2 linked regions of the Homo sapiens genome follow. The protein of the gene in region 1 interacts with the protein of each later gene in a pairwise test. Each region holds a gene or a part of one and is shown in the gene's direction. Other genes may lie near its edges.

Evidence for each region. Proteins that work in one complex are often made in the same cells at the same time.
Region 2: the proteins of MYNN (region 1) and SERPINH1 interact in binary tests that used the Homo sapiens proteins (3 or more experiments, as listed by UniProt).

The regions. Positions count from the first base shown.
Region 1 is NC_000003.12:169,786,704-169,790,275, forward strand, and holds the end of MYNN (myoneurin), read left to right. Parts: 3' UTR 1-3,013; downstream 3,014-3,572.
Region 2 is NC_000011.10:75,568,753-75,572,413, forward strand, and holds part of SERPINH1 (serpin H1 isoform 1 precursor), read left to right. Parts: coding exon 1-77; intron 78-186; coding exon 187-419; intron 420-3,028; coding exon 3,029-3,331; 3' UTR 3,332-3,661.

The DNA.
Region 1 (3,572 bases):
AGATATCATTGGTAGCAAACATCTCTGGTAAGGTGCATATATTCATATTAAATTCCCATTCATTTGAGTTGTGACCATTATTTTTCATTCACTGAAGTAAAAGCACCTGATGCTGCATCACAACTGCAATGTTTGTTTTTATTTTTGGCTTTATGTCTATACTCCACAGAGAGCTTTTTAAGTAATGAATTATGTAGCACTATTTTGGGTGGATGAGTTTTATTTTCTTTTAAAGCTGCCTTAATTCCATTTTTATTTTGCATTTTAGAATTGCCCTTCATTTACTAAATCAGCCAGTTAATGTGATTCAGTTGTGACCTGTGGGATTTTAAAATTTTCCTGCCCTCATAATTTAAGCAAAATCCACGATAGTATCAGCCCAAGAGTGTGTTGCTATTTGTAAGCCCCATGGATCAATACATAAACTATGCATAAAAATAAAATTTCATATTTTCGCTCGTAAAAATTTAGGCGCTGAATAAGAATTGTGCTATTTCTCTATTAATATATTGTTAGAAATAACTTTTCTAATGAAACAAAAATGTTTCTCAAAATCTAGAAAAGTGCATATAAATTTTTGTTCATTTAGAACTGAGTATTCTGGAGAAAACCAATGGTCAGCACTTTTGGTTTGAGTTATCTGAGATTGTATTTTCAAAATGAATTTTAAGTAGATATTTGGTGTTTTTATCTTGTCAAAGACAGTTTCAAAATTTGATTCAGTTTATGTTTTATTCCGTTCTAAAATATTGGAGATGAGGAAAATGTACTTGAGTTTTGAAATATTTTGGTAAGCCTCTCTTACTCCTGTTATGCACTTTTTAAAATAAATACTGAATTCCAGAAAGAATTTTCTAGATATAAACTTAATGCATACTAGAAATCACTTGGCTTCTAAATTTGGTACATTATATTGCATAAAGAGTTAAGAAATTAACCTCAATTATAAGTAAACATTTTGAGTTACCAGAAAGCCAACTATAGTTAAATATTTTATATCTGAGTTTTCTATAAGTTTGGGGTTTGTTAATTTTATAAATTAAACCACAACTTTTGGTGGTGGTTGTAGTTTCACAATGGTCCTTTTCCTTCCAAATGAATGTAGAAAATTCGTTATTATCCTGATATTTGCACCACTCATCCCCATGCCACTTTTCCCACATATTAATTTATTTCACTGCCTGATCTTTGGATATGAAATTATGAGTTCCACAAAGTCAATTTTTATAGTGCCAATCAAACAGCATGGTGATATTCTTTTTCTTTTTTTTTCCCCCCACAAGGCTGTTGTTCAGTGTGAGATGACATCATTTCTTATTTCTGCCATGCTGTGGCTTTTTTGTGTTCTGCTTTTAAACTACACCTGTAGTACAGTTAATATGTTTTTTATTGGTATTGATTTCTTTAATTCATTAATTTTCTCTATTTGGGACCCAAGTCATAAGAACCAATTAGAGGACATAATAAAAACACTTAATGCTTGTAGTCTGTAGAGATCTTCACCATTTCACAGCACACACATTATTTTCATAATAAATTGCCACTGGTGGGACATGGGACTGACTTATTTGAATAGAGTTTGAAATACCACCTTTGTATGATGCAAACAATATTTGATTATTTTATCTAAGAAATCTATGCATGTGTATCAAGTTAAAATAGTGGGTTTAAATACAATTTACAAAGCATTAGAATGTTACCTAATCTCTTCTGGGTTAAATGTGATAGGAATGTATTGGAATGTGAAGAAATTATAGAAAATTAAAAGACTCAGCCTCTTTAGGAAGTTTGCTAAAATGGAGAGGTTATGTTTAATTTATTTATATCTTCGTTAATCCAAGCATCTAATGAACAAAAAACTGCTACAGTGACGTCATAATTCTATAAGGGCAATAGTTGCCAAATTTCCTCTGGTATTATTAGCATTCTGCCTTTGCATAGATTAGCCTTCAAATTTATTATTTTTAGTATTATTTGATACGATTGAAGTGGCTAAGATTGATTGAGCTTTTCTTGATCACATTTTCTGCTTCTTAGCTAAAGTAATTTTATTTAAATTGACATGGCTTGAGTTGTCATCATTTTCTGCTCTTCTAGAATGATGTGTAGAGAAAACTTGAAGATACTATCCCTTCTTTGGCATTCTTCTCTTAATGCTATGCTATTATTTATCATAATATGCATATATTTAGTTGTATCTGGTATCATTCTAACACTCATAACTACCATTTTAGTTAAGTCCAACTTTATATTTGTTACAATGCAGTGTTTTGGGAAAGGTCTATTAGTAATTATTTAAGTATTACATATTTTTATGGAAGTCTTTAGAAGGTGAAGATCTTACTGAGAAACTATTTTCTAAATAAATTTAATTTTCTTTTGTATTTGTATCAGATCATGCCTACTGTATGTTAGATTTTAGACTATTTTAAAAGAAACCGTAGATTATATAAAAATTTTTTTGCTGTTTTTAAATGGCATTTGTCTTATGTTTAATTTCACAGGATGATTTTGATAGACAAATTTTAGAAAACCTTTTTTCAAAGGTAATGGTTCTATCAGTTTCATTCCAACAGTAGCTAATTTCTGTGTTTCAGTCCTACAGAAATTGTGTGAGTAGTTGAAATAATGTACATGTACTAGTTTTTTTAAGTATTCTAAATAGTTCTAACATTTAATGCATATCAGAAACATGCTTAAGAAATAACAATATCCAGGCCCACCCCACCTATTGAATCAGACAGTTCCCAGGGCATATATATGCTGGGGAAGCCCCATAGGTGATTTTAATGTATACCAAACATGTAGAGTCTCACTCTGTTGCCCAGGCTGGAGTGCAATGACGTGATCTCAGCTAACTGCAACCTCTGCCTCCTGGATTCAAGCAATTCTCCGGCCTCAGCCTCCTGAGTAGCTGGTACTACAGGTGCGCGCCACCACACCTGACTAATTTTTGTTAGAGATGGGGTTTCATTCTGTTGGCCAGGCTGGTCTCGAACTCCTGACCTCAGGTGATCTGCCCACCTCAGCCTCCCAAAGTGCTGGGATTATAGGCATGAGCCACTGCGCCCAACCATGAACTACTATCTTAAACATTTCCTGATGTTCTACCTTTGGGAAGCAGTTTAAAATGATGCTCTTGAATATAATTTTCAATATTTTACCTGGAAATTTTGAGTACCTAGAACTTTTTTTTTCTTATTATTATTATACTTTAAGTTCTAGGGTACATGTGCACAGCATGCAGGTTTGTTACATATGTATACATGTGCCATGTTGCTGTGCTGCACCCATTAACTCGTCATTTACATTAGGTATTCCTCCTAATGCTATCCTTCCCCTCTCCCCCCAACTACCTAGAACTTGACTAGAAATACCATCAAGTAAAATTCTTTAAATTCTACATTTTTACTCGTTATTTATGGGCAATATTGATATGTACTTATTACAGCATTAATTTTTTGAGATAATAATTATAGTCTACTCTTCTGTCCTCTGCAACTCCTGCCTCCATTCATTCAAAAGAGGTTTGCTGTACAGAGACTCCTTGACTTATGGGTTTATCATAAGTC
Region 2 (3,661 bases), on another chromosome or scaffold:
CCACAAGATGGTGGACAACCGTGGCTTCATGGTGACTCGGTCCTATACCGTGGGTGTCATGATGATGCACCGGACAGGTAGGTGCTGTGAGGAGCAGGGTGTCAAGGTGGGTGGGGGTCCAAGGGTAGTTGGTCTGACCCACCCCTGCACACAGGGTGCCCAGTGTCCTTTCCGCTCCTCTCCCAGGCCTCTACAACTACTACGACGACGAGAAGGAAAAGCTGCAAATCGTGGAGATGCCCCTGGCCCACAAGCTCTCCAGCCTCATCATCCTCATGCCCCATCACGTGGAGCCTCTCGAGCGCCTTGAAAAGCTGCTAACCAAAGAGCAGCTGAAGATCTGGATGGGGAAGATGCAGAAGAAGGCTGTTGCCATCTCCTTGCCCAAGGGTGTGGTGGAGGTGACCCATGACCTGCAGGTAAGGGGTGGCCCAGCCTAGGGGCCTGCAGGCCTTGGAGCCAGGGGGAGGTGCTTGGGGGACCCACTCACCAATTCAGCAGGTCTGTCCCAAGACCCCCTGGATGTCCAGGCAGTGCTGGGCTCTGTGATGGGGGAAGCTGGGGCAGGAGGTGTGGGCCATGCCCTTGGGAAGATGATGATAATACCAGCAGCTAAATATAACGGAACATTCCTGTATGCTAGGCGTTCTTCTAAGCACTTTATATGTATTATTATTATTTTTTTTTTGAGATGGAGTCTCACTCTGTTGCCCAGGCTGGAGTGCAATGGTGCCATCTCGACTCACTGCAACCTCCACTTCCTGGGTTCAAGCGATTCTCCTGCCTCAGCCTCCCGAGTAGCTGGGATTACAGGCATGTGCCACCACCCCCAGCTAATTTTTGTATTTTTAATAGAGACGGGATTTCACCATGTTGGCCAGGCTGGTCTCAAACTCCTGACATCAAGTGATCCTCCTGCCTCAGCCTCCCAAAGTGCTGGGATTACAGGTGTGAGCCACCGTGCCCAGCCTTTATACGTATTAAACTCTTTTAATCCTCAAAACGACTTTATTAGGTAGGACTATAAGTTTCATCTTAGAGATGAGGAAACTGAGGCTCAGAAAGGTTAAGTAACCTGTGCAAAGTCACACAGCTAGTAATTCAGACATCTTGCACCAGAGCTAACCCTCGGTCACTGCACTGCCTCTGAGGTCTGAAGTGCCCCCAGTTATAGATTGTTTAAGCTAGAGGATTATCTACCATCCAATAATCAGACTGGTAGCTATGGGTCATCTAGGATGGCCAGAAACTTAACACACATTCTCAAGATTCTCCCTTGCAACCACCCTGGGTAGTGGGCAGAGGCTCAGAGAGAAGCAATGACTCCCTAAGGTTCCCCAGGCTCATAAGTGGTGGAGTTGCAATTAGACCTCAAGGTAAAAACATAATAGCCGCCTTTTTGTCAATCGAGAGATATTTTTGACTTACCCAAAAAAGGAAACTTTCGTGTCATTCTTTCCTTGGATGCCACAAATGGTTCTCACCTGCAGAATCGATCCAGACTTGCTGCCCAGAGAGCTTGGAGAGATAAAGCTGGAGATGAAGTGGGGCTTAGGCTCCAAACCAGGGACAAGTGGAGCTCGTACTGGTCTGTGCTGTAGACCCTGGGAGTTCCTGGAGAGGGGTCACTGTCTCTCTCCTGGTCCTGGCCCTGATCCTTCCCCAGCCCCTTCTCCAGTGGCTGTTGTCCCACCCCCTTCTCCCCTTGTTCCTCTGGTGTCTTCCTGGAACCCTCAGTGGAGACCCCACCCCCCAGATATGGGGTAGATTGAGTTAGGAAATTTGAGGCGGATGACGTGTGCAAGGTCATCCGGGTGGGAAGAGCTGGGCCTACCTCGAATGCCTGTCTCATGACCCCCTGACTCTCAGGACCTCAGGCCTAGTTCCTGTGTGGCCTTGCCAGGGAGGTGGATGTTATCCTGAAGAATCCTGGACCCGGATGCTGCCATTCACTCAGCCCACAGCCATTTACTGTCCTCTCTCCTGCATTGAGAGCCAGGGAGAGCGCTGGACATGGGCCCCGCCCTCAGGGAGCTCCAAGCCAGGTGGGAGAGACAGGCAGCACCAGACTGATAACAGGAAGGTCCAGGGAGGCACCACTCATCCTGTGGGCTCGGGAAGGCTTCCTGAAAGAAGTGGTTTCTAAAGAGCCCTAATGGGAGACAGGATGGCCATCCAGGATATAAGCTGTTCTGTGAGGCTGTCTGGAGAGTGGGGTGGGGCGTGCCAAGGGATGTGGCTGGAGGCTGCCACGTAGGCACAGGTCATATGTTAAAGAGCTTATGGTTGGCTTCCAAGAGCTGTGCAGGGCCATGGAAAGATGTTTGTGTGTGTGTGTGTGTGTATGTGTGTATATGTGTTTTAACTTTTTACTATCGAACATTGGAAAAATAAAAGTAGATTAGTGTAATGAAACCTCAAGTGTCTGTCGCCCAGCTTCAAGCATTATCAGCTCATGGCCAATAGTGATCCATTTATACCCACTAATTCCCCCCTGCATCTGATTATTCTGAAGCAAATTCCAGGCATCCTATCACTCTGGACAGGTTTTCAGCCCCAGAGTGATGTGGACATAGTTGTCCTTAGATCAGTCTTTCTCAAACTTGAGTATGCTAAGAAAGCACTTGGGGAGTTTGTGAAAAGGAATCCATGCCCACTCCCAGAGATTCTGATTCAGGGGGTCTGGGCTGGGGTCAGGACATGAGCATTTGAGATAAGCTCCTGGGTGGTGCCCATGCTGTCTGTCCCTGAACTGCAGCTGGGCAGTGCCGGGATACGTTCTCACTTGTTTTTCTGAGTCTCAGCTTCCTCATCTGTGAAGTGGCAATTAGAAGCCCTTGTAGGGTTGCAGTGAGAATTGAGAAAGCTGTGATTTGAAGTGCCAGTGCCATGCCTGGCATACAGAAGGTGACCAGGGGGTGGTTCTCTCCTCTCTGAGGAGCGGTCAGGGTAGTATGGGGTGGAGGGTTTGAGGGTGGAGGAGCCTGGCAGCCATGGCCTCACCTGGCACACCTCCTTGTTCCCACAGAAACACCTGGCTGGGCTGGGCCTGACTGAGGCCATTGACAAGAACAAGGCCGACTTGTCACGCATGTCAGGCAAGAAGGACCTGTACCTGGCCAGCGTGTTCCACGCCACCGCCTTTGAGTTGGACACAGATGGCAACCCCTTTGACCAGGACATCTACGGGCGCGAGGAGCTGCGCAGCCCCAAGCTGTTCTACGCCGACCACCCCTTCATCTTCCTAGTGCGGGACACCCAAAGCGGCTCCCTGCTATTCATTGGGCGCCTGGTCCGGCCTAAGGGTGACAAGATGCGAGACGAGTTATAGGGCCTCAGGGTGCACACAGGATGGCAGGAGGCATCCAAAGGCTCCTGAGACACATGGGTGCTATTGGGGTTGGGGGGGAGGTGAGGTACCAGCCTTGGATACTCCATGGGGTGGGGGTGGAAAAACAGACCGGGGTTCCCGTGTGCCTGAGCGGACCTTCCCAGCTAGAATTCACTCCACTTGGACATGGGCCCCAGATACCATGATGCTGAGCCCGGAAACTCCACATCCTGTGGGACCTGGGCCATAGTCATTCTGCCTGCCCTGAAAGTCCCAGATCAAGCCTGCCTCAATCAGTATTCATATTTATAGCCAGGTACCTTCTCACCT